2 separate regions of the Homo sapiens genome follow, and region 1 is linked to region 2. The links come from fine-mapping of genetic effects on gene expression. A gene starts in region 2. The other region holds a variant in brackets. All regions are shown on one strand. Distances are between the middles of the regions.

Region 1 (16,643 bases), 43 kb after region 2:
TACAGTATAAGATGTTTTGAGAGAGATACAGAGAGGGAAACCACATTCAGATAACTTTTATTAAATTGTAGTTGTTCTACAGAACAGAGCCCTCAGAAATAACGCCGCATATCTACAACTATCTGATCTTTGACAAACCTGAGAAAAACAAGCAATGGGGAAAGGATTCTCTATTTAATAAATGGTGCTGGGAAAACTGGCTAGCCATATGTAGAAAGCTGAAACTGGATCCCTTCCTTACACCTTATACAAAAATTAATTCAAGATGGATTAAAGACTTAAATGTTAGACCTAAAACCATAAAAACCCTAGAAGAAAACCTAGGCATTACCATTCAGGACATAGGCATGGGCAAGGACTTCATGTCTAAAACACCAAAAGCAGTGGCAACAAAAGCCAAAATTGACAAATGGGATCTAATTAAACTAAAGAGCTTCTGCACAGCAAAAAAAACTACCATCAGAGTGAAAAGGCAACCTACAAAATGGGAGAAAATTTTCGCAACCTACTCATCTGACAAAGGGCTAATATCCAGAATCTACGATGAACTCAAACAAATTTACAAGAAAAAAACAACCCCATCAAAAAGTGGGCCAAGGACATGAACGGACACTTCTCAAAAGAAGACATTTATGCAGCCAAAAAACACATGAAAAAATGCTCACCATCACTGGCCATCAGAGAAATGCAAATCAAAACCACAATGAGATACCATCTCACACCAGTTAGAATGGTGATCATTAAAAAGCCAAGAAACAACAGGTGCTGGAGAGGATGTGGAGAAATAGGAACACTTTTACACTGTTGGTGGGAGTGTAAACTAGTTCAACCATTGTGGAAGTCAGTGTGGCGATTCCTCAAGGATCTAGAACTAGAAATACCATTTGACCCAGCCATCCCATTACTGGATATATACCCAAAGGACTATAAATCATGCTGCTATAAAGACACATGCACACGTATGTTTATTGTGGCACTATTCACAATAGCAAAGACTTGGTACCAACCCAAATGTCCAACAATTATAGACTGGATTAAGAAAATGTGGCACATATACATCATGGGATACTATGCAGCCATAAAAAAGGATGAGTTCATGTCCTTTGTAGGGACATGGATGAAATTGGAAATCACCATTCTCAGCAAACTATCGCAAGGACAAAAAACCAAACACCGCATGTTCTCACTCATAGGTGGGAATTGAACAATGAGAACACATGGACACAGGAAGGGGAAAATCACTCTCTGGGGACTGTTGTGGGGTGGGGGGAGCGAGGAGGGATAGCATTGGGAGATATACCTAATGCTAAATGACGAGTTAATGGGTGCAGCACACCAGCATGGCACATGTATACATATGTAACTAACCTGCACATTGTGCACATGTACCCTAAAACTTAAAGTATAATAATAATAAAAAAAACCTAAAAAAATTGTAGTTGTTCTATTTTATTAGTTATTGCTTTTAATCTCTTACTCTAATTTATAAATTAAACTTTATCATAGGTATGTATTATAGGAAAAAGCATAGTATATAGAGGGTACTGTTACTATCCATGGTTTCAGGCACCCACTGGGGTTCTTAGGGTATATCCCCCACACATAAGGGGGGACTACTGTACAAAGCTCCTTTCTAACAGACAGGGAACAAAGTCACTCTTTTTCTGGTTTCCAGGTCAAATACTTTTCTCCCTCTCCAGCCCTTCCTCCAGCCATTCCTTGCTCTCATACACCCTCATAATATTTGCACAGTAATTTATGGTCTGCCAACCCTTCCGGGTCTGTTACCTCACTTGATCCTAAGAACAACTCCGAGTTCATAGGTCAGTTATTTGCATCTTTCTGATTTTATAGATGCAAAAACTGAAGCTCAGATCCTAGTTAAATTTCCCAGGGTCAGAGTGTAATCGCTGGGTGAAGACAGGAATTGAATTTCAACCTTCTGATGCCAAACTTTGTGTTCATTCCACCATCCCAGTGTTGCCTCTCTCGTGTGCCTGGAATTCCACATTATTTGGCAACACTCATCTTGTTTCTAAATTATTTTCTCATAACCAAAGTCATGACATTTACAGAAAAAGCAACCTCAGAAAAGCAAAGGTACAACTTTTTCTTTCAGTCAACTCTTGGGCTTATTTATAACACATTCCTTCTTTGAAAGCAGGAGTTCTGAAAATAGCACATCTATCCTTTGCCTATTAAGGGATAGTGGAACAATTAGGCTCAGAACAAAGCTAAGTCCACGATAACTGTGAACAAATTAGCCACAGACTGAAAAACAGCGTGAGTCACCAGAGGGAATAAAATGTACAACTTATCAGTGAAAGATCTCTTGGTTTCCTATTGCCAGAAACTTTAAATGTAAGTGTAGTATGTGTACTGGTATATTCCCAATTATATTGAAAATGATCTATTAGCAGTATAAAATTTGTGGAGGGGAGAGAAATTATTTCATTCAGAAAACATTTAATTCCCTCCCCCTCAGCTTTTTGTGGGTCACTGTGCCAAATATAGATGGGAAAAGAGAGTAAGAGGTCCTCATCTCCAACTTGTTCCTTAGCAGGGACACAGGACACACGAGCTGTAGTGGACTTGCATCCTAGGTACTGAAAAGGATTTTATTTCTTTTTTGATTATGAAGCTTAGTTTGGCTGGATATGAAATTCTTGGTTGGAATTTTTAAGAATGCTGAATATAGGTCCCCAATCTCTTCTGGCTTGTAGGGTTTCTGCTGAAAGATCTGCTGTTAACCTGATGTAGCTGACCTGCCCCTTCTCTCTAGCTGCTTTTAATATTTTTTCTTTCACATTGACCTTGTATTTTTAGTAGAGACAGGGTTTTACCATATTGTCCAGGCAGGTCTCGAACTCCTGGCCTCAAGCAATCCACCCGCCTTGGCCTCCCAAAGTGCTGGGATTACATGCATGAGCCACTGTATCCAGCCTGAGTTCTGAAATTGAATCAGTAATAATAATACTCCTACCAACTGGAAAAGGTCCCAAACAGATTCACAGCCAAATTCTACCAGACATATAAAGAGCTGGTACCAATCCTACAGAAACTATTCCAAAAACTTGAGGAGAATTCCTCCCTAACTCATCCTATGAGGCCAGCATCATTCTCATACCAAAACCTGGCAGAGACACAACAAAAAAAAAGAAAACTTCAGGCCAATATCCCTGAAGAACATAAATAAGGAGACCTGAAAATGTGGAATCGACTTTGGAACTGGGTAATAGGCAACAGTGTGTGCAGGGGAACTGCCTTTTATGAACCAAAACCCAGCAACACATCAAAAAGCCAACCCACTGTGATCAAGTGGGCTTTATTCCTAGGATCCAAGGTTGGTTCAATATATGGAAATCAATGCATGTAATTCATCACATAAATAGAACTAAAAACAAAACCACATGATCATCTCGATAGACACAGAAAATGCTTTCAATAAAATTCAACATCCCTTCATGGCAAAAACCCTTAAAAAACTATGAGGCATCAAAGGAACGTAACCTCAAAACAATAAGAATTATCTATGACAAATCCACAGCCAACATTACACTGAATTGGCAAAAGCTGGAAGCATTCTGCTTGAGAACTGGAACAAGACAAGGATGCCCACTCTCCCCACTCCTATTCAACACAGTACTGGAAGTCCTAGTGAGAACAATCAGGCAAGCGAAAAAAATAAAAAGCATCCAAATAGGAAGAGAGGAAGTCAAAATATCTCTTTTCACAGAAAATGTGATTCTAAACTTAGAAAACCCCATAGTCTCTGCCTCAAAGCTCCTAGATATAAACTTCAGCAGTCTCAGGATATAAAATCAATACACAAAAATCAGTAGCATTTCTATACAACAATAATACCCAAGCTGAGAGTCAAATCAAGAATGCAATCCCATTCACAATAGCCACAAAAGACTTAAGTAGCTAGGAATACAGCTAACCAGGAAGGTGAAAGATCTCTATAATGAGAATTACAAAACACTGCTGACAGAAATCAGAGACGACATAAACAAATGGAAAAAGATTCCATGCTCACAGATAGGAAGAATCAATATTGTTAAAATGGCCATACTGCCCAAAGCAGTTTACAGATTCAATGCTATTCCTATTAAACTACCAATGGCATTTTCACAGAATTAGAAAAAACTATTTCAAAATTCATATGGAACCAAAAAAAGCCTGAATAGCCAAGGCAATCCTAAGCAGAAAGAACAAAGCTGAAGGCATCACATTATCCAACTTCAAACTATACTACAAGACTACAGTAATCAAAACAGCATGGTACTGGTACAAAAACAGACAGACCAATGGAACCAAATACAGAACCCAGAAATAAAGCCATACAAACTACAGCCATCTGATCTTCAATAAAGTTGACAAAAATAAGTAATGGGGAAAGGACTATTCAATAAATGGTGCTGGGATAACTGGTTAGCCAAATGCAGATTAGAACTAGACACCTTCACCATATATAAAAATAACTTAAGATGGATTAAAGACTTCTATTAGTCTGTTCTTGCACTGCTATAAAGAAATAGCTGAGACTGAATAATTTATAAAGAACAGAGGTTTAACTGGCTCACTCCACAGGCTGTACAGGAAGCATGGCAGCATCAGCTTCTGGGGAGGCATCAGGGAGCTTTCAGTCGTGGCAGAAGGCAAAGGGGGAGCCAAGCATCTTACATTGCAGGAGCGGGAGCAAGAGAGAGAAGGGGGAGGTGCTACACACACAGATCTCGCAATAACTCACTATCACGAGAACAGCAGCAAGAAGGATGATGTTAAACCACGAGAAACCACCCCCATGATCCAATCACCTCCCACCAGGCACCACCTCCAATGCTGGGGATTACAATTCAACATAAGATTCGGATGGGGACACAAATCCAAACCCATATCAAGACTTACATGTAAAACCTAACTGAAAAAACAAAACAAACAAAACCCCTAGAAGGACACCTAAGAAATACCATTCTGGATGTAGGCCCTGGCAAAGATTTCATGAGGAAGACACCAAAAGCAACTGCAACAAAAACAAAAATTGACAAATGGGACCTAATTAAACTAAAGAGCTTCTCTGCTCTGCTAAAGAAACTATCAACAGAGCAACCAGACAACCTACAGAATGGAAGAAAATATTTGCAAACTATGGATATGACAAAGGTCTAATATTCAGAATCTATAAGGAACTTAAGCAAAAAACAAAACAACAACAACAACAACAACATTAAAAGTGGGCAAAGGAGGCTGGGTGTAGTGGCTCACAGCTGTAATCTCAGCACTTTGGGAGGCTGAGGAAGGTGGAACACTTGAGGTCAGGAGTTCGAGACCAGCCTAGCTAACATGGTGAAACCCCATCTCTACTAAAAATACGAAAATTAGCCGGGTGTGGTGGCACACACCTGTAGTCCCAGCTACACAGGAGGCTGAGTCATGAGAATCGCTTGAACCCAGGAGGTGGAGGTTGCAGAGAGCCAAGATCGTGCCACTGCACTCCAGCCTAGGTGACAGAGCGAGGACCCTGTCTCAAAAAAAAAAAAAAAAAATTGGTAAAGGACATGAACAGACACTTCTCAAAAGACATACACATGGCCAATAAGTAAATGAAAAAATGCTCAACATCACTAACCATTAGAGAAATGCTAATAATCAGAGAAATCCATCTCACCCCAGTCAGAACAGCTATGATTAAAAAGTAAAAAGAAACATATGCTGGCAAGGTTGCAGAGAAAAGGGAACACTTACACACTGTTGGTGGGAATGCAAATTAGTTCCATCTCTGTGTAAAGCAGCATAAGGGATTTCTCAAACTTAAAACATTCTACCATTCAACCCAGCAATCCTATTATCAGGTATATACCTAAAGGAATATAAATTATTCTCCCAAAAAGACACATGTACACATATGTTCATCACAGCACTATTCACAATAGCAAAAGCATGGAATCAACCTAAATACCCATCAACAGTGGACTGGATAATGAAAATGTGGTACATATATATTATGGAATACTACAGTCATAAAAAAGAACAAGATCATGTCCTCTGCAGGAGCATGGATGGAGCTGGAGGCCATTATCCTAGGCAAATTAATGCAAGAACAGAAATCCAAATACTCTCACTTATAAGTGGGAGCTAAACATTAAGTACACATGGACACAAAGAAGGGAGTAATAGATACCAGGGCCTACCTGAGAGTAGAGGGTGAGGATCAAAAAACTAGCTATCAGGTACTATGCTCACAACCTGGATGACAAAACACTGACAAAACCCCTGCAACACAATTTACCCATGTTACAAACCTGCACATGTACCCTCTGAACCTAAGAAGTTGGAAAGAAAAAAAATAAGACATAAAAAAAAGATTGCTACAGCAATCACTTTTCAAACCACCGGTATTAATTTCTGTCCTGTGATTCAAGAAATATCTTCACCACAAATTTAGAGTTAATGGATTAAGAAAATGATTTCTAATTAACTGTGCATCATTGTGCAGTTGTCCCTTGGTATCTATGGGGGACTGGTTGCAGGTTCTCCCTCCAGATACCCAAATCCACAGTTGCTCAAGTCCCTTATAATAAAATGGTATAGTATTTGCATATGACCCATGCATATCCTCCCATATTTTTAAAATGATCTCTAGATTACTTATAATATCTAATATAATGTGAATGCTACATAAATTGTTATAGTGTATTTTTTAGAGAACAACGACAAGAATAAAAAGTCTGTACATGTTCAGTACAGATCCAACTATCCATTTTTCCCCCCAAATATTTTCAATCCACAGTCGATTAACTCCATGGATATAGAACCCATGGATACAGAACCCATGGATACGAAGGGCCAACTGTATTCTCAAAGTTAAAAAAAAAATAAACACTGGCACTCTGAATACACTGTAATGGAAAATGTCAGGGTTTATCTTAAAAAAAAGTAACGGATTAAAAACAATGACAACCCTAAGTATTTAAAGAGATTTATTAAATCATCTTATCACAAAGATGGAAACATATACAAACTAGAAACATGCAACCATCATCTTCCACAGTCAAGTCACAATGTCAAATATTTTTCTTGCCTCTGCAGATGAAAAGTTCAGATCTTATACCCAACTACTTACTCACCCCGAATATTTAAGTCAGTCTTCCTGAAAGTACTCAGGGTAGCAAGTAACAAAATGCAAACGATTATATAAAGAAAGTGCAGTTAAAAAGGAAACTATGTGGCAAGTACCCTCTTTCCCTTCCCACCCCCCAATTAAAGGCAAACAATGGCACTTTGCTCTTGCTTAACCTAGATTGTCTTCAAAAACTATTAAAATGTAAAAGACTTAACAAAAAAACAAAAAGACGTTTAACAGATGTCAAAAAGCTCCTTAGTGTTTGAAAATAAATGCTTAAACAAAAGACAACATATTTTATATCAAACAAGTTTGAAGAGCCCTGAATTGCAGCATTCTGTAACATAAACAAACAAAAAGCTGGTATAGGATTTATTGTCAAAGGCAGAATTTCTTCAGGCAGGTAAGTAAGGAGGTGGTGGTTCTTTTTCAGGCATTTTCACGGCCATTTCATAGGTTGGCAAAACGTACTAAAGAGAGAAAAAAAATTGTATCAGATTTAATTCTCCTTTAAAATCCTTTGTGAGATAATTCAGCTTTCAGACTTTATGCCCTAAATAGGGTTATACAAAACCATAAAGAAGAGCTGAAGAAACTGTTAGCTAAAATGTTCCCAAGTAGATGCCTCAATAACCTGGAATTTTACCAAGATTGCTAGCGAAGGGGAGGGTGGAGAGAGGGAGGTGGGGAGAGAGAGTCCTGCTTCTGGACAAGGATTCCTAGACAGGCAGGCAGTGGGTGCCATTGCTCTGCCCTCATTCCAGTGTGACCGAT[G/A]AAGTGCCAGTGCCAATTACACTTCAGGTGTTGAGGAGTTGGGTTAAACCATGCAATAGGAAACACCCAATAAGACGCTAGCTCCTGGATCCTGACTTTCATCAGAATCAGTTTGTAGTCAGAAGATCATGAACTTATATCATGTCTTCGAGGGTAACAGGCACACCTATGCAGTGGAGGAGTGACATTCTAATCGAAGTGACTCCAAGTCTGAAAGCCTGGCCCTAGATGGGCCACATATATTTTATATGCTGAAAACCTGGGAAGGTAGCACAGCAGCAATTAGAGGGCTGTGAAAGGTAGGCTTCCCCAAAAGACCCATGAAACCACTGTATTCATCTCCCCAGACAGGTCAGCTCCCCCGTTGGATCATATGGATGTTTTCTGAAAACAACACAAGTTTCAGTCAATGGAACTCCCCATCCTTAGAAGCCCCAGGCTACATGGGCCTAACACAGCTGTTTCCTGTCATCTCCCCTACAAACATGACACTAATGAGGACCTCTAATGAGTAAATCTAACAGCCAAACTGGATGAGACAAGCGACCCAGGTACTCAGGATTCCAAGTGGAAAATGTTGAATCCTGTGGATTTTAAGCTGTTCATAAAAGTACCCAGGGTTCATGCCCAAACCATAGGTTACAGCATGAAAGAGAAAGTCAAGCTCCAGGTTCTTCTCCTGGAACAGTCAATAGTGACTGGTGACCTTTTACTCTATCCAACAGTAGCTAACCTGAGGAGGTGCTTCAAAGGCAGGGTACACAGCAATCTCCGGCACGTTTCGGTTGTTGATGTATTTATAGCAGTTCCAAACACAGTTAATTAGATAAGCCTGGAAGAATAAAAACAAAGTTGACATCTGCTAGAAACTCAACAGACTACCTGCTCTAAAATGCCAGTGACTTAGAATGCTTTCCCCACACATCCTCTGTGTAGAAGGGAGCTGACCTCTGTGTGGACCCAGCACAGGCCAGGCCCTTTCCCTACTTGCTCTCATTTAAGTGTCATGAGTTTCATCGCCAACATTTCAGAGAGAAACCAGAGATGGAGCTTCAATTCAGGTCAACCCACTGTGCTGCAGAAGAAATTCTGGGTTTGTGAACCTTGGGAATTTTAACAGATTTTCAATACAAATCATGAACCCCTTTTCAAAAACATAAAAAGTAGGTCCTTTCACTCAGAGAAGGATCCTGACAGTTACAACCATTCCTTGGAAACACAACAGAAACCATTCCCTAGAAGCTATCTCTGCTCATGTGCCAGAATAAACACTGTCCCCACAAATCCTCAATCTCCTGTGACTTGTAAGGTGAAAGGCAGCAAAAAGGTTTAGATTCACAGTGTCAATCTCAGTCACCCCTAAAGATTTAGTCAGCAACGTACCTTAAAAATGATGAATAAGGCAAAGAACACAAGAACAATGAACAGGAGGCAGCTGGAGTCCAAGGCCAGGAGGTCATCTTTGTAGGGAAAATCAGGCTATTAAAGAAACACACACACATTTACAAGTCAGCCATCGCACTAGCACTTGCTGATAACCTGAAGAGCATCTGAAGAATACAAAGGCACCAAAGTCAAAAGTGATATTTAATAAAAATGTATAAGCAGAATTTAATTCAAAGTGCTTTTAAATTTTAAGCCTTATCACCATTAATGCATGCTAACAATCACTTAGAGTACATTTGATAACCCACAATGCTCCAAAAAGTCTAAATTTAGCTCGTTTTCTCTTTACTTTTCACTATTTTCCATCTTTCTGGCCTTTGGAAAAACACTATCGCCTATATGGCACTGGAGATCAGTCCCTGTGTCACTTGCATCATTAACTCAGGAGATGCTCAGTTCTGTGTAAGTTCTACAGATAAACTGGGCCATTTTAATGCTACAAGGGGAAAATTATTTTTCTAAATGTCAATCGTTTGTCTCAACTCTCATCAGACAGGGGCAAAAATACACCCACTGGTTACAATGTCAGGCAAGACATAAGTTTTACTGCAGACATACTCTGTTCTACTGAAAAGCATCAGCTATATTCATTTAAATACTTAATCAGCCCTGACTGTGTACAAGGCAATGAGCTAAGTTCAGGGAGAAAGGTGTTATAAAAGAAGAATTTCAGATTTAAAAACTAACCAACAGAGGAAATACCTTCCAGTCTGAGGCACTAAGTGAACAAAACAGAGGAGAGAAAACACCAGGGTCTCTAAAAGGAATAATAAATTTTTATCTTCTTTTCTATAAAGCTGATTTAATTTTTTTAAGTTATGCTTGTTTTTAATGGAAATGTCAACAAGAAGGCCTAATTACATTTTCATTTAAAAAGCAACATAAACAGAAATCCCAAAGGACTGAAAAAAATAGAAAAAAAAAATTTTAAGAACACACTACTCCCCAAACCCCAGCCAGGTTGTCTCCTTGGGAAAAAAGCTGTTTTTTTGATCTTCATCTATAAACAAAAAGAAAAACACAGAAGGTGGAGCTCATGAGGGAATGCTATGCTAAGGGTTTTACTCAGAAGGCAGGGAGGCACCACTTGAAATTTCTCCCCCGGAGATGACATGAGCAGAGAGCCACACAGAAGCCGCTGACCGTGGCTGACCAGGCCAACAGCCCTGCCCCTGGCCACCTTTCTCCAGGCTTCCCCACCCTCCCTCTGTGTGCCAGCCACCATGGCCAGCTTCTAGTGCCCTCACTATGCTGCTTCTTGCCTCAAGGTCTCTCTTTTATCTGGAACATTGTCTTCTATACTTTCTCTATCTTAATTCCTGTTCAAACTCCTGAGTACAATTCAAATCTCACTTCCCAGCCCAGGTTTAGTACCCATGTGATATCCACTCCCACAGTAACCTACAATGGTGTATCAGTTAACTGTCAACTTCCTGATTCCTTCACCAGGAAGTAAGCTCCACTGATGCATCTCTATGACCTAGCAGAGTGCCTTGCACATAAGAGCAACCAGCGAATGTTTTCTGAATAAATGAATGATGAATTTGGTGGTGTGGAAAATGGGCTAGGCAGGAAATCTGGTAGTGGGAAGAAAAGTTCTGAAAGACAGCACTTTGGAAATGAACTGAGGATACTCCTGCCAATTTTCATCTACCTAGATCCCATATCTCCTTCTGACCACCTCCACGACGCCCTCCTTGGCCACCCAGCCCAGAGTTTTCCCTGCCCCCCTCCATATGACATTAATCGAAGTTCCTTATTTGCTGCTGCTGTGACAGCTCCCGCTTGTTATCACAGGTAACATCTTCATGTATCTTGACTCCCCAAATATTACAGTTTGCTCGCTAAACTGTAATATTCGCAGTTATCTTTATATCCACACCATTCACCAACAGTGCCTAGCAAAGGGCTAAAAACATAGTAGGCACTGGAATACTTGCTACAGATGTCTGTAAAGACAATAAGCTAGTCACTTAAAGAGTGCCATACACAGTCAAATTACTGTACCTTTGGATGCTCAAAAACAAAAGCTGAACTACTAGTTCCATAATATCCATTTCTAGGAACTCTTAATACTGCATTATCCAAATGGATGGTAAGAAATTACTCTACTTTCATCTTGCCAGTTTTGTCACAGTAGCTAAGAGAGCAGAAATAATTATTTTAAGACACTTTCAAAAGCAAGCGGAGTAGTTAAAAATAATACCTAAGGCTGATTCAGAATTTAAATGTAAACATTTTACTCAAAATGAAAAAAAAATAAGTTTAATGAGCATACACACTTACTAGTTGATCCAGATATTCTTTGATTCTTGGCAAATAGGTGAGAGAACTAATAGCAACCAGGCAACTGAGGACGAAGTCAAAAAGTCGGTAACAGAAGAATGGAATCAGCCAACCCACTTGATACTGGAGAAAAAATAACAACCATAACATTGTATCACATATAGGAAATTACTAAGCTCCCCTAAGGTCAAACTCTAAAAGATGAAAATACAGTATACTTACAGAAATTGCTCCATAAACCAGCATTGAACTGATTATAAACATAAGAACAGAGACGGCAAAAAGAACACAGGCATTATCTAAGAAAACAAAAACAAAAATCTAATTAAGCTACTTACACAACAAAAAGAACAAAACTTCACTTAAAGCTAGCTTTAAAATATTAAATTTAAATATTTTCAAAATTGGCTATAAAAAGATCTAAGGCCAAGAGGGTAAAAAAAAAAAAAAAAAATCAAAGTCTCAGCATGAAGTAAGGAACCTTGAGACATTCACACAAAGCACTTATTTGTTAAATCGCTCCAACGACTCACTGACATGGGTGTAGGATGGCACATGAACCACATTCTCTGCTAGAGAAACAGGTCCCTGTGCCCTTATGAGCCCAGGAATCTGAAGATGTGCAAACAGATCATTATAATCCAATGTGTCAAGTGCTACAACAGAGGCAGAAACAATTTGCTTTGCCTGAAGCATCAGGAAAAAATATGAAGAAATGACACAAGATGGGTCTTATGAGTAGGGTTTAGCTGGAAGGAATGGCTGGCAATTGCTTAAAAGACAAGTGTATTAAACTCAGAATGCTACATACATTACCCTTTGCTCTAGATAAATATAACCTGAAATTCAAATTTCGCCATTAACCTCACTTCCCCACCCAACCTCCCAAACACCAAAATTCATTGCTTCCTGCACCCTGGTATCTATGTTAACACACACTACTTTCTTCTTCGTTTCTCAACTCTTCCTCAGGTTGTTCCAACTCTCCATTAATCCATGTTCACTAATTTTTTCACAAAACAGCCAAGTAATCTCAAGCAATTCTAAACCGTGCCTGACTTACTGAATTTCTTAGCACAAATCTGTAGTTGATTCTGTGACTCTGGACAGTTTTTTCTTTCTTTTCCTGAGACAGAGTCTTGCTCTGTCGCCCAGGCTAGAGTGCAGTGGCGCGATCTCGGCTCACTGCAACCTCAACCTCCCAGGTTCATGTGATTCTCTTGCCTCAGCCTCCCAAGTAGCTGGAATTATAGGCAAGCACCACCACATCCAGCTAATTTCTGTATTTCTAGTAGAGACGAGGTTTCACCATGTTGGCCAGGCTGGTCTAAACTCCCAACATCAGGTGATCCGTCTGGGCAGAGATTAAGAAACTGGGGGGGATGGGCACGGCAACCCACACCTGTAATCTCAGTACTCTGAGAGACTAAGGTGGGAAAATTACTTGAGGCCAGGAGTTCAAGACCAACCTGGGCAATATAGCAAGACCCTGTATGCACAAAAGATGTTTTAAAAATGAAAAAAGAAAAAAAATACTGAGGGCACTAATAATGATGAATGACTAGAACAACTGCTGAATATTCCCTATTGGGTAAATGTATATACAACTTTTTTTTTTTCTTTGAGACAATCTCACTGTCACCCAGGCTGGAGTGCAGTGGCACAATCTCAGCTCACTGCAACCTCTGCCTCCCAGGTTCATGAGATTCTTTTGCCTCAGCCTCCAGAGTAGCTAGGATTGCAGGCCTGCGCCACCAAGCCCAGCTAATTTTTGTATTTTTAATAGAGACAGGATTTCACCATGTTAGCCAGGCTAGTCTCAAACTCCTGACCTCAAGTGATTCACCTGCCTCGGCCTCCCAAAGTGATGGGATTACAGGCATGAGCCACCATGCACAGCATGTATATATAATTTATCACTGGGCAGTAAAACCTCATCAATATTTGGCACTAAACTAGGAATAGTCCTCTTTACTTTTTTCTTAGAGGATACAGGATTGATAAATGTTAAGAATTTAAAGGACTTCCCTGCTACAACATGCAAACTTCCACTTAGAAGAATTCAGGTAAAAACAAAATATGAAATTAAACAGGTATTATCAAACTTGAAAGCAAAATTTGTAATTCAAATAATCGGCTTTCAAGAGTCTGCTATGGGCTGGGCACAGTGGCTCATGCCTGTAATCTCAGCACTTTGGGAGGCTGAAGTGGGAGGGTCCCTTGAAGCCGGGAGCTCAAGACCAGCCTGGTAAAGACAGGGAGACCCGATCTCCACAAAAATTTAGCTACTCAGGCAGCTGAGGTGGGAGGATCACTTGAGCTCAGGAATTCTGGGTTACAGTGAGCTATTACTGTACCACTGCACTCCAGTTGGGACAACAAAGTAAGACCTTTTCTCTAAAAAACTTTTTTTAAACAAATAAATAATATAAATGTGATTTTAAAAATGAAGGGCGCTGGCTGGGCGCTGTGGCACGCCTGTAATCCCAGCACTTTGGGAGGCTGAGGCGGGTGGATCACCTAAGGTCGGGAGTTCGAGACCAACCTGACCAACATGGAGTAACTCTAAAAATACAAAAAATTAGCCGGGTGTGGTGGTGTGTGCCTGTAATCCCAGCTACTCAGGAGGCTGAGGCAGGAGAATCGCTTGAACCCAGGAGGCAGAGGTTGCCCTGAGCCGAGATCGCACCACTGCACTCCAGCCTGGGCAACAAGCGCAAAACTCTGTCTCAAAAAAAAAGAAAGGCATTTATCCCATTCATAAGGGTAGAGCCCTCATGGCCTAATCACCACCCAAGGGTCCTACCTCTTAATATCATCACCTTGGAGGTTAAGCTCCAGCATGTGAATTTTGGAGGGACACATATATTGTAACCATAGCAACTTCTCCTTTCTACTAGTAGCTACATTAAAAAAAAAGTCTTATGAAGCCTGCATGCTTATTTTGATTTCAAGGTACATTTTACACATTTCTCAAAAACTTAATAGTCCATTACATTTTCTGGCTAGAAATGCTCTATTGTAATCCTCACTGAATCTCTCTGAAAAACCCATCAAAATACTTTCCTGCCTCAGCAAGAATGACTTAAATATAATTTAACTTGTTACCCTTATTATGTAACCATTTTAACTTTCTGAAATGTAACTTAAGCATAATCTAATCAATCCCCTAAATAACCAGTGTGTGTGGAGACAGACAGACATGGGCCAACAACATTTTGGTCAACAATGGACTGCATATATCATGAGGGTTCCATAACACTGTAATAGTGTATTTACAGTATTACTATATTTTTCCATCTTTAGATACACACCTATTTGCCACTGTATGATAACTGCCTACAGTATTCGGTACAGTAACCTGCTGTACAGGTTTTAGCCTAGGAGTCTCTACCACATCGCCTAGGTGTATAGTAGGCTACGCTATCTAGGTTTGTGTAAGTACACCCTATGATGTTCACACAACAATATCACCCAGTGACATTTCTCAGAATGTGTCCCCATCATTAAACAACACAGGACTGTATATAAAAATTAGCAGGGGAGATTTTTTTGTTTTTCTATTAAACACATACCAGCCATTCTCTCAGACGAATAGTAATTACCGATGACTTCATACTGAATGTTGACAGCTGGCATGGAGTTTGGATGAGTCACTTCCACAGTCAGCAAAATTGCCATCAATAGGTTTACTACCTGGAAAAGATAACATTCTATCAGTTACATTAATTACCATCACGACGCAATCTTAGCACAATCTCTAGATGTCCTCTCATATTTAAGATTGTCTTACTTGAAGTAACAAAGATATAAAATAGTGGGAGACTACCTGTGAGATAAAACAATACGCAATTACCACTATGAGAATAATTTAAAAATAAATATTTTATAAAGTATAAGTAATATTAACCATTTGAGAGATAAGATGCTTAACCAATACACCAGAAAAAAATTAAAACTAAAGAATCATTACAAATGGTTCATGTTCGAAGCTACCTATTTATTCATATACCAATCTCAGAATTTCTGGATTTGAAGAAGTTACTGTTCATCTGTTATATTTATTCATCAGATGCCCGAAACCCCTCCACAGCATCTCTCATCAGGTGACAGAGAACTCACTATTTCCTCTAGAGCTAGACTCAAATGCTTAAGAGACTTACCAAGATACTGAAAGTCACTTATCTACTAGTCTTACTTTTGTGTGTGTGTGTGTATGTGTATGTGTGCGTGTGTGTGATATGGAGTCTCACTCTATTGCCCAGGGTGGAGTGCAGTGGTGCAATCTCAGCTCACTGAAGCCTCCCCTTCCTAGGCTCATGTGATCCTCCCACCTCAGCCACCTGGTAGCTGGGATTACAGGTGCCCACGACCATACGCGGGTGATTTTTGTATTTTTAGTAGAGACGGGGTTTCACTATGTTGGCCAGGCTGGTCTCTAATTCCTGACCTCAAGTGATACACCCAGCCCTAGCCTCCCAAAGTGTTGGTATTACAGGCGTGAGCCACCACGCCCGGCCTTAAATCTACCTTTTGAGATAATGTGCTCTCCCTTCTAAATAAGTGCTCCAATACCTGAAAACAGCCTCCAAATACTGTGTTCTCTAGAATAGACATGCAGATCTTTAAGCCATTCCTCTGACTAGCATGTTTCCTAGCTACCTATTTCCCTTTTGTCTTCCTCTTTACACATGCTCCAGTTTGATGGACATATATTAAAATGAGGTAAAGTCACCCTGGTCAGAACATAATGGGATCTCAGTTCTCATATTCTGGCTAACGAATTTCAATTAATGCAACCTGAAGTTGTACTGAGGTTTTTTGTTTTTGTTAGAAACAAGGTCTCACCATATTGCCTAGGCTGGTCTTGAACTCTTGGCCTCAAGTGATCCTCCTGCTTTAGCCTCCCAACATGCTGTGATTACAGGCATGAGCCACCGCACCCAGCCTGCATTGGCTTTACAAATTTTCTGAATATCACATGAGAGTAACTCCCTAAAACACCAAGTTC
Region 2 (16,643 bases):
TCATTTAACAAATATTTATGAAATGTGTACACTGTGCTATGCATTACAAAAGGTTCTACATATAAAATGGTGAACAAAACAGTCATTTCCCCTTTCTTCTCAGAGCTTTCAGTCTAAGGGACCAATATTAAATATATACTCACATACACATAAATGTAACTATAAACTGGGAATGTGAAAGCATAATAAGAAAGAGTAGCAGAAGTGACTTAATTTAGATTGATGGGGAACCAGGGAAGGCTATCAGAAGAACTGATATTTAAGCTGAGACTGAGAGGTAAACTGGAGATAGCCAGGAAAGGTAGAGAAAGAAGGGGAGTATTCCAGGCTAGGACACAGCAACATAAAGGCTCTGAGGTAGACAACTAGAGCCCTTGACAAACTCTAAGAAGGCCTATGTGGATGAACAGGGGAGAAAATTGCATCAAACAAGGCTGGAGTGATAGGCACAAGAAAAACTATGAAGTATTTGTAGAAAATGATAAGAATTTTAGATTTTATCCAAAGTGCAATGAAAACCTCTAAAGACGTCTTAAAAATTTACTAACCATCCTACAGAGAATATTAAAATGTCATCTCAATAAATTAATCTTGGCTTAGAAATCTGTTACACATAAAACATAGCATTTAAAATTTTCATTTAAAATACAAATGTTATGAAGATCTTAAGAATTTGTGAGAATGGGAATTATACCAATGCTAAAGAAAATTCTACTTTCAGATAACAAGTATCTTAAAATATTATGAAAAATATCCTTTATTCTGAAAACATTGTCAGGAAAAGATACCTAATTTCCTCTAAATCACTAGTTCTAATTACCCAGTTGTTTTGGTAACACAAGAGTACACATGTACAGTTTAACAATGCAATCATCTGTCAATTAAGATAGAATAAATGTTGCTGACACACACATTAGGCTGAACATAATTTTTTTTAACACAGGGTTCTTTCATTCATTTAATCTTTTAAAAATTGTACAACATACTTAAACTTTATTATAATATTCTAAAATATTTGGTGGAAACATTTTTCTTAACTTCTAGCACTGAAAAATCCATTCTAATGCATATATATATATATATATATATATATATATATATATATACATATATACACACACCCACATATTCTGATGTCACTATAACCTAAGTGAAATGGGTCATATGAGATTTAGATTGACCACCCATGTTTGCCCTCTGTTAGACCATAAGGTAGCATACTCTTGACAAAACACATGCTGACAGTTAAGAACAGGCTTTGAAATTCAGCTTGATATATTGAACAAATATCATCCACATCTGAAAACGTCTCTTGCTGGAAGCAACTCCGTAACTTGATCATGTAAAAAATATTCATAAAACCCACCTGAAAGTTCTCAGATGTCCATAAAAAGGCCAAAAGTTTTAAATGATGTAGAGTAAAGCCAGCGATAATATCCCAAGATTCCATTCAGTTACATTACTAGACTCCAGATAGCCAATAAGGTAATGAAACCAAACTGGTATGTGAACAAAAATCTGGTAATACTGACATAAATCTTCTAAAAGCACATAACAGTAATCCTTGGATTTAAAAGGCATAATCGAAGAAGTCACCAATAAAATAAAGCATTTTAAACTCATGTAAAGGAATTTCAGAATGAAATCAGTTATTCCAACAATCCGAAGTACATCAAAAAGTCCAAAGAAGGCTTTTAAAAAATTAAGGTGTAATAAAGCAACTGAAAACAAAAGGTATGACATAGAAGAACAGAAGATCATGCTAATAACACCAATAACCAAGCACACTAAATCTTTGAGAATCTTTCTCTTAGAAAAGCGTGACTGCCAATGCTTTTGTTTGCATTCATAAAAGTTGTCAGCAGCCCAATTTCAACAGAAATTCCTGTTACATGCTGCAAAATAAGCTTGAAACCTAGAATCAAAATATACAGAAGACTGTTTTGCAACACATAAGGATAATACAATTCTGAGAAAGAGATGGTACCATATTCGCCAGATTCTCTGGCAGGATCATCTGGTTGCCTTGCTTCTCTGTGTGAATGACTGACTGCAAAGGACTCTGTATGCATCCCTGGGTCTAGCTAAGGACACCTTACCTGAGATTTCTGGTCAATTTTGTTGTCCTGGGCATATTGGAAGGTTGAGGCAATGTCACTGCCTGCAGGTACCGGAGGACTGCGCAGTCAGCTGCAGTTGGCTTCCATGGCCCTATATACTTTTTCTCTGATGCAAATGTTGGCTTCCAGGGCTCTCTATTTCCTCTCATGAGGATGAGGGTGGAGGCCTTGGCAGTCGTAGCAGAAAAAGCAAGAAATGCCACCTCAATCCTAGTCAGGGCCATCATCCTCAAACCCTACCACAAGCAGCTCCAACCCAGGGCCATCATCCTCAAACCCTACCACCAGCAACTCCAACCCAGGACCGTCATCCTCAAACCCTACCACAAGCAGCTCCAACCCAGGACCATCATCCTCAAACCCTACCACAAGCAGCTCCAACCCAGGACCATCATCCTCAAACCCTACCACAAGCAGCTCCAACCCAGGACCATCATCCTCAAACCCTACCACAAGCAGCTCCAACCCAGGCTGTCAGCCCTTTAAATACCTTTTGGCAAGGAAATGACATCATCTGGTCCCTTTAAAAAAAAAAAAAAAAAAAAGGGCCGGGCGCAGTGGCTCACGCCTGTAACCCCAGCATTTTGGGAGGCCCAGGCGGGCGAGTCACTTGAAGTCAGGAGATCACGACCATCCTGGCTAACACGGTGAAACCCCGTCTCTACTAAAAAAAAAAAAAAAAATACAAAAAATTAGCTGGGCGTGGTGGCACGCACCTGTAATCCCAGCTACTCAGGAGGCTGAGGCAGGAGAATTGCTTGAACCCGGGAAGTGGAAGTTGCAGTGAGCCAAGACTGCACCACTGCACTCCAGCCTGGGCAACAGAGTGAGACCCCATCTCGGGAAAAAAAAAAAAAAAAAAAAAAAAAAGCCTGACACTGGCTAGAGTGTCAAGAACGACTAAGAGGAAGCCAGAGACAATGGAAGGAGGGAAACTGATTCTCACAATAGACCAGGTGAGGGATGATGGTAGCTGGAGCTATAGAGGGAGCAGGGGAGACAAAGGAAAGGATGGGTTCAACATACACTTTGGAGACAAAAGCAACAGGATTGCTGATGCAGATGTTGTTAACGGAGGAAAAGAGAAGATTTCCAGCTTGAGCAAATGAGTGAAATGGAGATATTTGCTGAAATGGAGAGAATTGAAAGAGATTTGGAAGAATATCAAGAGTTCGGTTTTGAACACAGTAAATAGGAGATACCTGTGAAAGACTCCAGTGGAGACACCCACGTCTGAAAAATCAGGACTGGGCTGGAGATATAAATGTGGGGCTCTTCACCTCATACCACAGATGGCATTTAAGGGCATGAGAATGAAAGAATAAATAGAGCAAGTGAATAGAGAGCCCAGAAGCAAGTTCTCAGGAATTCTAATAGAAGAGGGAAATCTAGCAAAGAGACTGAGGACTGACCAGAGAAGGAGAGAAAAGTAGTACGTCTAAATATAACAATAACTTAAACATTCTGAATTCTCTTGTCTGGAAAAATAATGTTTCAAGTCAAATCCTGATGAGTCAATAAAAGCTGTCCATTAGATTTAGAACATGAAAGTCACTGGTGAGGGAGAGAAAAGGAGAGAGGACTGATATTGAAAGGAGAGAGAGAGGATAAATTGGCAGAAAGGTACCTGAGAAGGTGAAGGGAGATGGGCTCCAGCAAAACACTGGAAGCTGGCCTGTGAGAGAAGTAAACCTGATGTAAAAAGATGGATTGCTGGTTCTAATTCCTTTCCTTCTAGAGCAGGGAACTGAAAACTGGAAATGCAATGTGGTGCAAACTTTCTGGAGGGTAATTTGTGTACACATATTAGGAACTTGTATAAATGTACACACTCTTCGATCCAGTGAATGCCATTTCTAGAGATTTATCGTAGAAAGTATTAACTATTTATGCAAAGATTTGGATACAAAGATACAGTTGCTTTAATAGTAAAAATGTGGAGACACCTAAATGTCCAATACTAAAATTGGTTAAGCAAATTATGATATATTAATACCAATATAATGAAATACTAAATAGACATTAACAATGGTGCCATAGAAGATGATTTATGGACGTAGAGGATTGCTGTATTATGTTGCTGTACCCAAACTACAACACATTATACTTCACATGTTGCATCTTTAGCACAACACAGTGCTTCATAGAAAGCAGGCATGCAATATCTATGATTGTTACTGGACGGATCTGCTGAATCAACACTAGTTGTATTAAATATAATATACTGATCTTGTTAGACTCTCACAGCCATATTCCTCATATTTATTTCTTTCAGCACAATTCATAATCATTCAGTTCCAAAACAAATACTTTACTCCATTTTCCAAACCTCCCAAGAATTGATTTCCCATCTTGTTCACTAATTTCAAAGAATACTCCAGTCACAGCTCATCAAAAGGGCAGAGCAGAAAAAGAAGTTTGTTTTTAAAAAAGCCTTCAATGTTAAACAAAATGAATGCACTTCTTAATGTAATTTAAAACTTGCAGGCCAGGCACGGTGGCTCACACCTGTAATCCCAGCACTTAGGGAGGCCGAGGTGGGTAGATCACGAGGTCAGGAGATCAAGACCATCCTGGCTAACACGGTGAAACCCTGTCTCTACTAAAAATACAAAAAAATTAGCCAGGCATGGTGGTGGGCACCTGTAGTCCCAGCTACTTGGGAGGCTGAGGTAGGAGAATGGCATGAACCCAGGAGGCGGAGCTTGCAATGAGCCGAGATCCAGCCACTGCACTCCAGCCTGGGCAACAGAGCGAAACTCTGTCTCAAAAAAAAAAAAAAAAAAAAAAACTTGCCAAATATTGTAAGCAAAAGTATGTATATACAGACACACATATATATATATACACACGTATATATATATCTATATACACATTTAAGAAACAGAGAAAAACTTTCTTTTAACACAGTTTTAAAAAACTAAAGCACTGACAGATTGAACTATAAAACAGCATAAGCCAAACTTTAATTGGTACTCTTCTTTACTTAGGCTGTCCACTAGCCCTTTGTGTAGTGGTTAAAAACAAGGACTTGAATGTGAGACAAACTTAGTTTCACATCCTTGTTCCGCCACTTACTGGCTGCGTGACCTAGGGCAGTTAACAGCTCAGAGCCTCAATTTTCTCACCTAGAATACCTACTGCCCAAGATTATTGTGAAGTCAAATAAGATTGTGAAGGTTAAACATCCACTACATGGAAAATCGTCAATAAGTATTTATTATTCATACCGCATTCAAAGTTGTAAGGTAATGCTATTCAAAGTGCGGTCTGAGGACCAGCAACTCAGCTTCACTAGAAATGGAAATTCTCAGGCCCCATCCCGGGTCTATTGTGTGGGGGTAGAGCATGAAATCCATCTTAACAACCTCTTCCAGTGATTCTTATACCTAATACAGTTTGAGAAGCTATGTTGTAAGGAATCCAAAAATGTAATGCAGTTTAACCCCCTACATTTTCATTTTATGGAAGACTAAACTAAAGTAGTAAGATCCTCAGCTAACTTGTTGAAAGTCATTCAGTAGTCTTGTGGAAGAGCTGAGATTTAACTCCAATTACCTTATCTAGGTCTTCAATCTAGGGGGGCTAAGAAGTGGGAAGCTGTTTGCTGTGATTCCAGAGAACTAGATAAAGAAAGAAATCAAGCAGCAAAGACAAGAGACCTACTAATAGAAATGTAAAACGTATCCCATTTTCTGTTCTTGGACACTAGGTGAATAACCATTAATGCATCTGATAAGCAGAAAGGATGACACAGACCTGTAAACAATCTGCCAGATTTTCTTAGTGAAATGTTGACTCACAGGATTTCTTTTAGACTCCTAATAATATAGTACAATAATTAGACATAGCATAACACAGTGACTTATTTTCATTCTTCATTATTTTTCATTTTCCATTAATAACTCAGCAAAAACCATCCGATGTTTACATTCAACATTCTCTGAACTTTATTGCAAATATACTCCAGAAAAACACCATAAAATGTTTTGGTAGTTTTCCCTTTAAAATAATCAGAACTGCATATTGACAGATAACATGAGTAGACCGCACTGAACAAATAACATTAGCCAATTTACTACCAAACATGTGGGCTTGCATTCATTTACCTGTCTGCGTCTCTAATTTCAAAACTTTCAGTAATCCATCTTCACCACCGCATGCTATGAACCCTTGTTCCTTGTTCCAGGATACACACTGCAGCTTCACGTTATTGGGAATGGAAATCTGAAAAAGCAACCACAGCCGCACTAGCAACTTTTCACGAAGGAGCTGGGAAGTAAGTCTGCAGGAGATGAAAGCTGAAGAAAATCTTCCAAGAAGAAAAACGAACGGCCTTGCAGAAAAAAAATGAGCTGTTGTGAAAATGGGCATGGTCCCCTGAACTGACCCGGGCTCTAGCATTTGGGAAAGAGGGAAAGAAGTGCACAAAAGAGAAGGATAGTGACTGCGGAGGAAGCCAACGCCAGAGTCTCACCGGATGGATTTTTTAAAGGGAGGACGGGGAGAGGGTATAAATCCATACCACCAGTCCCTCTTCCTTTTTACCTACAACTTAGGCTATCCTATTGTTATTTCTTTTCTCTTGCCCAATGGCTCGTGGTGATCCAAAGAGTTTAAATCACGTGGATCAGCAACAAGTGGAGGAGGAAACATAGGGTAGCACGTGGCGACTTATCCTCAAGCCACCCAAAAGGACCTAGCCAGGGGCAGGAATGGGAGAGTGCTGCGAGAGGGCAGCAAGCTCGGCCAAAGACTGAGGCTCTGGGAACCGCAGGAAGAGGTCGGAGGCTGGACCCGGCGGGAAGGATGGCTGCGGAATGGCGAAGCCACGACCAGGACCGGGTGAAGGAGCCTGGCTTCTCGGGAAGGCAGCGGGAATCGCCGCAGGCTGCGGGAATGGCGGAGAAACGAGGACGCCCCCCAGGAAACTCACTTTCTTGCTCAGGTAGAAGAACATCGTGGGATCCCCGAGAGGGTCACGGCGGCCGCTAAGGCCCTCGACAAGTAACGGTTCTACGTCTCCAATCGGGAGTACCAGCAGCTCCGGAAAGCTCCCGTCGCCCTGGCAACCGCTGTTGCCCGGTCGCATCCGGGGCGCCGCGGGACACTTCCGGTGACGCCCTCGCACCGGGCACCGGCGTAGTGCGCCTGCGCGGACGTCGATGGGTTTGTGGGCGCAGGGCGCGAGGCGCGAGGCGGTAGCTGGGCTAGTCCTGTTCCCTGGCGTCTGGGCCTTTCTGCTCTCCGCAAGGAGCTGGGTCGCGACCTGTCACTGCCAGCCGTGCGCTCGCCCTCTGCGCCCCGTCTCGTGGTCACTGCCGCCCTCCCTCCCGCCACACCTGTGATGATCGCTATGGAGCCGCGCCTCAGGTGGCATTACTATAAACCTAAGAGGAGAGGCGCCCGTTCGAATAAGGGCAAATTATTTAGTATTTTGTAAGTTCCAAAGTTCCAACATTCTTGAAAGGGAAAAGCCATTTACTGTATTTGATAGGCTGGCGCCACTGGCCAGATGAAAGTGCAAATGTGCGTACTGAGATCTTACAACCCTTCTCTGTGTCTTTGGGGATTGGAGAACCTCTAGAGCAATTTAGGAATAGAAGATTTTGTTTATTCCGCTTGTTTTGATATTTTTTAACAGTTTAATTATTACCGCAACCCCGAGGGTCCTTTTAAAGGAATTTCTGTAAACGTTGGGTAATTACAGCGTACAATTGCTATTGGGGCATGGCCTCCCATTTTACAAATATTTGAGCGTTTGGTGTTTTCTCGTCTAGAGTCGACTGTTACATATTCTCTTCTTTTTCTTACCTTCTTTCTTCATTCTCCTTTGTCCTTTTGGAATGCTTGAGAGTTACAAAGCCTCAAAGTCTAAGGCATAGGGCAGAAATCCAAGTAGAACCACTCATGAAATTATTTGGTCTCACCTATGTTTTTATTTCTGGTTTTCCCTTTTACCATAATCTAGCATGTAATTTATGCATCAGTAGTTAATTTCCCCACTTGGAGTCTTTTCCCATCTCAGACAAAAATAAAATAAAAATCCTCCAATCCTTTGACCTGGGTGATTTGTCTCACCCAGCACAATCTATTATAGAATTGACAATAGTCCCTAGTGCCTTTCCTAGCAAATCTAAACTCCATCCAAAATCAGATCTTCCCTCAATCCTAAATGTTTTTACTAGGGAGCCCCCACCTCAAGTAAGCCAATATGCTTTCTGCAGGGCAACATTCCATCCGGCTCTGCTTCCCAAGCCACTTTATATATGGTCCTACCCTCTTAACAGGCCAGTTGTGCCTAGCCAAACCAGCACAAATCAGTCTCCATGAGGAATTCTTTCCAAACTTAACCCAATCCCATTCAGATAATGTTTGCTTTCCATTGTTTGTGTGTCTGTTTAAGATACATTGGCCCCTGTCCATAGGCTCCCTATACTGGACGCATGAGACAAATTAGTATTATCTAACCCAGGAGTTTCCAATAAACTGGTCAAGACATAATTAGTTGAAGCTAGTTACTGATGGTGACACCTGAAAACTCACCTCTCTTTATCTTTCCCTTCTTGCACATGAACTCTCATTTATTCCTTCTATACCACCATTTCTCTGTGGTATATTAATATGTATTACTGATTTTGGGCTCAAAAAAGTCTGGAAAATACTACTGTAGCTCTATGTCATACCCTTTCAAAATTTTTGAAAAGTAAGAGATGCTTTATATATTTCCTTGGTATATTTAGTTTTTGTTCCTTCCTTAAAGTTTATATTTTATATTTACATCTGTAGGATATATTTGCTTCTCAGGAGCTTATATTAATGTAAAGCTCATCATTATTTTATCCAAATTTAGATAATTTTATATTGAAGCCTTTCTTTTGAACCTGAACTTACACTTTTAGCCTCAGGAGTGTGAGATTAAACTATAGGAGGAGAATCAAACTTCTGTCTTTTGATAAGAAACTGTTGAATATCAAAATAACTGTTAATTCAGTATAATTTAAAGAAATATCTTTAATAGACAAAATTGATGAGTCATCAAAAATAGACATGATAATATGTAAAGGTAATAACTTTTATTATATTAAAGACAATGCAAACGAAAAACAGAATTGAGCAGTGCAAAATTTAAAGGACTGTTTTGTTCTCAAAGTTGCAAGTTTCAAAGCCAAAAGAATTATATGTATCAAATATATAAGTAAAAAAAAGTTAGACTTTCAAGCCTGTAATCCCAGCACTTTGGGAGGCTGAGGCAGGTGGATCACTAACATTAAAAAGACAACATTAGATTTTGTCGATTTATAGCAATTTTATAAATATATAACTTTGTCACTTGGATCCTGAAGCAAAATAATAAAGTGAATTTGGGATTTTTGTACTTGGTAAAAAGTTTAACACCCTAAATTCACAACTAGTGCTCTTTAGTAGTACATTTCTTTCAAAGACCAGAATGAATTAAAAATGGCAATGTAATGTTCACTTGATCTGTGTTAACTATTTTTAGATATGTGTATTACAATCTATTGATCACATCTTCAATAATACTCCAACAAAATAAGCAAAAAACAAAAAGTGTTAAACAGTTCAAAATTACATTCATCTCAGTTATATGAAGTTGTATGTGTAAATACCTTGTACAATTTGCACTCTCAGTAATAAGATTGATTTATATTATAAATACTATCAAAAGAAACTAGACCTAAAGTTTCCATTGTGAATATGGTTATCTAATATAAACATTTAAAAATTAAATGGCTCAATTAGTAGATAAAGAAACACTAAACTTTTCATTCTATTTCCTACCAATCATTTCACAGTCATAACTTAGAGACACTAAAGTTTGCTCTTAATAAGTATCTGCATATGTATTTCCTTGGAAGAATCATGCTGATTCTGCAGAAGATCTTCATACAATTTATCCAGTAATATTCAAGCATTAATACAGATAATGGCAAATTATTAGCAGGAACATTGGCAATAACAGGTGTGCAAAAGAATGCATGAGTATTAAGTACACCAAGCTGTCCACATTTTCAGGTGAGAAATTGGAGCAATTTAACGATGTATTTGTCCATATTCATTTATTTTCAACTTCTCCAAAATGTCATCAAGTGGCAAGTTGTTAAGGCCAACACCATTTATTTTTACACATTAGAAAATATAAACACACTTTCAAACACTTCACAAGATAAAATAATTATGTCCTATGAGAAGTGAAAAAAAAGAGCAAAACTGTTTTCTCACCAAAAGTTGAATTCAGTCTAAAAGTCAAAAATCCTGTTCTTCAGAGAGCACAATAAAAGTAGACCCCTGCAGTGGTCTTCAGATGTTTTTGTTCATATAAAATGTAATTGGAGTAGCATCTTAGTGTGAGGGATGGGGGAAGCAGTGTTTATGAAGTATTGATTAAAGGGATAGTTGGATTGTCCCTTTGTTTGGCTATCTCAAGATTCTGCTGTTCTAACAAATGCACCTTAGTAGATCTAGGGTAAATGAGAAGTATGCCTTTCTTGTGTGAAGTTAGGAGAATGGTGATATGGAAATGAGAGACGGGAAAAGAAAATGCCAGCTGATTCCAAGTAGTGTCTTAAGCAAGTGAAGGATTTGGAAATTGATTCTTTCCAATTATCTGTACCTCCCTTAAAAGTCTCTACATACGCCTAGATTGTACCTACCACAATCTAAATTCCACTCCTCTGGGGTACATAGGAACAGAGTTGTTAACTTGAACTGTTCTGAGAAACTTTTCCCTAGTTACTCCTTTGAAGAAAGAACTGATTTTGAAAGTTTCTGAGATTGTATCATGTTACATTTTAAAATCTGCTTTTTGACCACTTGGCTAGTCAAAGGGTACAACTGTGTGTAATCTGAGATATCACACCCCATTAATCAGCTGACTTGCTTTGTACATGTTCAGATTCTGAACTAAGAAAGCCATATTAAGGAGTCATTAGCATAAATGTTCCATCTGTTATGTAAGAGCATCATTAGGAGCATATACAGTTATGGAAAAGCACTAGGGGACAAAATAGGCAGCTTTTACATGTAAATATTGAATGGGTGAAACAGTCTATTAAACCATTAGAAAAGAACTCTAAATTTTTTAAAGTTGTATATTACCACTGCTCATATTAAAACCTAACAAATAAGTCACTTGCCTGTGGAATGTCTTAAAGTGTTTGGCTCGATCGTAGTACCTTGGTTGGCTCCAGGCAGAAGGAGAAAACCTTCCAGAAAGGATATGTTTAGTGTTCAGTCTTTGAAGATACGAGCTGACCTTGTCCTGGAATGCCAGTGTAGCTTCACATCCACAAGCATCTTCAGTGGAAACAAGTCTTCGTGCTTCCTCAGTGGCTGAAGACAATGACAGTACACAAATATACTATCTAGGAATAGCTATATAGGAATCATAACAAATCAGGAAATCCACAGTTGAATATTTCCACCGTTAAGACTTACCTAAGTGCATTTTCCAAGAGGTAAAGGGATAGATGAACAAACAAAAAGACGAGAAAATACTTATCACAGAAAAATTCATCTTAGGATACATTGGGGAAAATGTTTATAATTGTCAAAGCTGAGTGATGCTTAAGTGAGGGTTCCTTATTTTATTCTCTGTACTTTTGTGATTGCCAGAAATTATTCATGATATAAAGTAAATTTAGAAAAACATGGTTGGTATAGGGGGAGGCCAGGGATATAGAAATAAGACAATGTTTATGTAATACTGTGTAATTAAGAAAGGAAAATGGGCCTGGTGCAGTGCCTTATTCCTATAATGCCAGCACTTTTGGAGGCTGAGGCAGAAGGATCACTTGAGGCCAGGAGTTCAAGACCACCCTGGGCAACGAAGCAAGGCCCTGTCTCTACAAAAAAGTAAAATAGTTAGCCAGGCATAGTGGCACACACCTGTAATCCTAGCTACTCGAGAGGCTGAGGCAGGAGGATCACTTGAGCCCAGGAGTTCAAGGCTGCAGTGAGCCATGATCACACCACTGCACTCCAGCCTGGGTAACAGAGTAAGACCCTGTCTCTTAAAAATAAATAAATAAAAATAAAACTAGGACAATAGTCCTCTATTTGTATGGCTAAAATATACCAAAGATGAAAACTAGGGCCAGGCGCAGTGGCTCACACCTGTAATCCCAGGACTTTGGGAGGCCAAGGTGGGTGGAACGCTTGAAGTCAGGAGTTCAAGACCAGCCTGGACAACATAGTGAAACCCCGTCTCTAATAAAGACACAAAAATTAGCTGGGCGTGGTGGCCCATGCCTGTAATCCCAGCTACTCGGGAGACTGAGGCAGGAGGATTGCTTGAACCCGGGAGGCAGAGGTTGCAGTGAGCTGAGATCGCACCACTGCACTCCAGCCTGGGTGACAGATTGAAATGTCGTCTCAAAAAACAAAACAAAAAAAAAGGATAAAAACCAGGTTAAGTCCTGATTTCCTCTAGAGGACTGTTATTCTATTTAATGGTTTGAAGTAAGAGTCCTAGTTCTTACCAATAAATACTTTGGAACTGAAAATTCACGTTTGTATTGACATTTAACCAAATATGAGAGGTGATAAAAGTAACTCCTATTTCTTTATGGAATTCAGTCAGGCAGCTATTCCTATTCAGTATCAGGGCTCCTCCTAAAGTTGTGAATAGAAATAAGAGTAACTTCCCAGGTCTGAAGACTGGTGTATCATCTTCCAATGGAGTAATTCTATTGCCTGAGGACAGGAAATGGTCCTTTGCTGCAACATTTTTACTCTTAACATTTTACAAAGATCCAATATAGGGATGGGAGATCATAAATTCATTAAATATAATCTATCATCTATCCACCTGTCTGAATCCTATTGAACCTTTTAGGGACAGCCAGTCCAAATCCCATCTTAGTTAATCAGTCAATAAACCAGGAAGTATCTATTGAAGATCAACTACATGTCCATTATCCCTGTACCCATAAGATGGGTATATATAATACTTGTTCAGTGTCTGTCGTGCCTGATAGTCTCTAAGCTCTAGCAGGGCATGGGTTCAGTGGGATAGTCTTAATTACAACACTTCATAGAAAATTGTAAACCTGGATTGTAGAAAAATTGAAAGTTGAGAAATGGATCTCAAACTCCATTTCTCAAACCTGGGTTGTAGCAAAATTGAAAGTTGAGAAATGGAGAAATGGTGCTTATAATAGCACCAGAAGGAATAAAATAGTTAGGAATAAATATTTTTAAAAGTACAAGACTTGTACACTGAAAACTACAAAACAATTTTGAAAGAAATTAAAGAAGACCTAAAATAAAATAAAATTAAATTAAATTAAAGACATACCATGTTAATGCAATGAAAGACTGTTAAAATGGCAGTACTCTCCAGGAAAAGATGCCTCACCTCATTAGTAACCAGGAAATGAAAAAAACATCCACTGGATTGGCAAAAATTTAATTCAACAAAACCAAATGTTGGCAAGCAAATTCTGACAAGCAAAAGCATTGAGGGGAGGGTGGGAATGAGTGAGTGCAGGGCATGCTCCTGGACCATCAAAGAGCCCACTGTGGCTGGACCAGGATGCAGGAAGAAGCAGTGAATCTGGGGGCAAATGTAGTAGAAAAGTTTTAAAAGCCAGGATGAGAGAAGTAGTTACCATGGGCTGAGGGGAGCGGGTGATGGGCAGTTATTGTTTCATCGGCACAGACTTTTATTTTGGGATGATAAAAAATTTCTGGAGATGGATACTGGTGGTGGTTGCCCAACAATGTAAATGTACTTAATGCCACTGAACTATACACTTGAAAATAATTGAAATGGTAAATTGTATGTGTATTTTACCACAATAAAAAAAATTCAGACTTAGGCAGAAAGTTTAGTTATTAAGAAAAATGTGAAAAACAGAGAAGACAGAAACAGATCATGGAGGGTAGGCTGCCTGGTATAGGGGTATCATTGTTTTATTCTGTAGACCAGTGGGAGCCACTGGAGAATTCTGACAGGGAGAAAGAATCACAACTGTGTCTTAGACAGAAAGAAAAAAGCTTGCTCCTGAAAAATTTTCCTACCAAAGGAAATAGCCTTAAAGGGCTGATCCTCACCTGAACATGTTTTCTTGTCCTCATTTAAGGTGTAGCCAGGATAGCAATCACAGTGGTAGGATGCGGCCCCATCACTCACACAAATGTGCTGGCAACCATGAGAGCCTAGGGCACACTTGTCACGGACTGACCGCACGTGGTGCAGGAAAGAAAATATTCACACATTAAATAGAAAAGTAAACACAAATGTTTGAGAGGAGAAGCTTCCATTTGGTCCCCACAAGTGCTGAGAATGTAGTAGTCAGTAGTCAGCAACAGGCCCCATGCTGCAGGAGCAAGCCTGTTTTCTCTTCCCATACCTCTCATCCCTTTGGCCTCACATCACACACACTCCTTTCCTTTATATCTCTCACAGATATCTAAGGGTACCTTTCCTTTTTTTCTACCCACAGCACTGGGCAGCACTGAGTCTTGACTATATTCCAGAACTTACCTCCAGCCTTTCCCGATGACTATCAATGCTTCTAGCATCCCCAGCTACTCATGGATCATCATCATCATCACCAAAAGTAATGTTTTAGGGACCTAATCATACATGGAGCTAAGTTTGATGCTGCACAAAAAGCACTATATTGACCAAGTGCCTGCCTTCATAGCTTACAAAGTGTAACAGAAAAGACTGACCAGGAGACACATGCACACACACACACACACACACAAGCACAGATGGGGAAATGATACAGGGTTAGTAATGATGATGTGTATGATTAGAGAGTGAAGTACTTACTATCTATCACAAATAACATTTCAGGGACAAATGCAGTTTGCCCAAATTTGAGTGGAGAGGAGAGCAAAGTGCCATACTCATCCCATGTTCAGACTGGCCTAGGACAAATAAAACAGTAATTCTCCTTTGAAATCCAGAAAGCCTTCCTGGAAGACATAGGTTCCTCCTCTGCCATTGCAGGAACCAAAATAGTTTATTTCCCTCTAATTTTCCTCTTAAATGTCATTTCATGGGCAGAACCTTTTGTGGCTCACTAATGCCTATAGAATAGCTTCTTGTGAAATGTGAGACGCTATATAATCTATACATAAAGTGCCTTTCCAACCTTAATATGGCTATTCCCTTTCAGTGCTACAATTTAGATTTTTTTTTCAGCAAAATGCCTTATAGCAGGGTGTTTCATTTTTTTCCCCCTCATTCCAGGTTAGTACCCACTCTACAGGTGGCAAATGGACATGCTTCCAGCCCCTGGCCCTTATTTGGGGCTCCACATTTAATTTACAAGCCTTCCTACCACTAGCAACGGAAAAGCAGACCATTAGAAGGGATCTGATCCATGGTATGTTCCCCAGCTTTATAGCAGTATTCACTATTACTTTAAAATATATAAATAGGCCAGGCACAGTGGCTCACACCTGTAATCCCAGCACTTTGGGAAGCCAAGGCAGGTGTATTGCTTGAGCTTAGGAGTTCAAGACAAGCTTGGACAAAATGTCAAAACCCCATCTCTACAAAAAAATACAAAAATTAGCCAGGTGTGGTGGCATGTGCCTGTAGTCCTAGCTACTCAGGAGGCTGAGATGGGAGAATCACTTGAGCCCGGGAGGTAGAGGCTGTATGAGCCAAGATCACACCACCGCACTCCAGCCTGGGTGACAGAATGAGACCCTGTCTCAAAAAAGAGAAGAAAAAAAAATATATATATATATAACTAACTTTCCCACTAGTATTCTTTCTCTTCTGTCCCTCTTCACTGTCCTGTGCTTTGTACATTAAGACAGTAAGGCTTAGTGGTTAAGAGCCTATGTAACCACTAGAGGAAGTACCTGGGTTCAAACCCTGGGTCTGCTACTTGCTAGCAGAGTAACCATGGGCAAGTTACTGAATCAGTTTCCTCCTAACGTTGCTGTGAGTATTAAGGTACATTACTGTATCTAAAATGCCTAGAATCCTGCATGGCCTACAGTAGGTATTGAAGAATATGGAATACTGGCATCTGGGAGTGTTGTCTGCCTTAACTGAAAATTTTCTTTGATTTATGTTTTTTTTTAAAATAGATTGCTTCACTTTATTCCATACTATCTGTTAGTTTAAATGGAAATTTGTTTTTGGTTTGTTTTCCCAGGTCTTCAATGTTCCTGGCAGCTTAAAGTACCAACTGGGACACTTGTCACTAGTTTGAGAAGTGCAGCCATAGGTGAGTTCTCTCCACCCCAACTTTCTTAGTCATCCTGCCCTGAACAAATCAGCTCAAGCCAGTCCCCCGCCAGTGCCACTTTCCACTTGTCTCCATTGAAACCTTCACCCTCCTTCAAGGCCCACCACCAGCCCTTCGCAGATGCCCACCTCCCCAGCCTCTACAGCCCTTTGTTTCCATCAGTCCCTCTCCCTGGCTCAGTCTCTGCTTTCATAAGGAGCCGGCTCTCTGTTCACCCAGATTTAACTTGCTCAGAGGCAGAAACTTAGGCTTCTTTGTATGCTCCCAATGCTTAGTTCCA

Alleles and levels. Alleles are on the strand shown, and positions count from the first base shown. SD is a standard deviation of normalised expression in the study named.
As copies of G replace A in region 1, the expression in adrenal gland of the gene that starts at base 7,269 in region 2 goes up (small effect, 0.34 SD a copy in GTEx).

The links.
Region 1: its variant is fine-mapped to the expression of WDR35-DT in adrenal gland (GTEx, PIP 0.98).

What each region holds. Positions count from the first base shown.
Region 1 is chr2:20,025,684-20,042,326 of GRCh38, forward strand. LAPTM4A (lysosomal protein transmembrane 4 alpha) reads right to left here. Exons shown (of 7, transcript NM_014713.5): 2 at 15,208-15,328; 3 at 11,855-11,931; 4 at 11,633-11,755; 5 at 9,284-9,379; 6 at 8,634-8,732; 7 at 6,967-7,596. The coding sequence ends at 7,522. Among named protein-coding and RNA genes, the nearest start is that of LAPTM4A, 18 kb to the right of the region's middle. The variant G/A (reference allele first, on the strand shown) is at 7,901.
Region 2 is chr2:19,982,936-19,999,578 of GRCh38, forward strand. WDR35-DT (WDR35 divergent transcript) reads left to right here and starts at 7,269. Exons shown (of 3, transcript NR_110235.1): 1 at 7,269-7,559; 2 at 16,271-16,342. It overlaps WDR35 (WD repeat domain 35), which reads right to left and starts at 7,170. Exons shown (of 27, transcript NM_020779.4): 1 at 7,057-7,170; 2 at 6,230-6,347. The coding sequence starts at 7,080. MATN3 (matrilin 3) reads right to left here. Exons shown (of 8, transcript NM_002381.5): 6 at 14,199-14,324; 7 at 11,364-11,474; 8 at 9,117-10,231. The coding sequence ends at 10,176. It also overlaps the pseudogene RNFT1P1. RefSeq lists enhancers at 6,901-6,950, 6,967-7,470, 7,101-7,150 and a silencer at 7,311-7,390.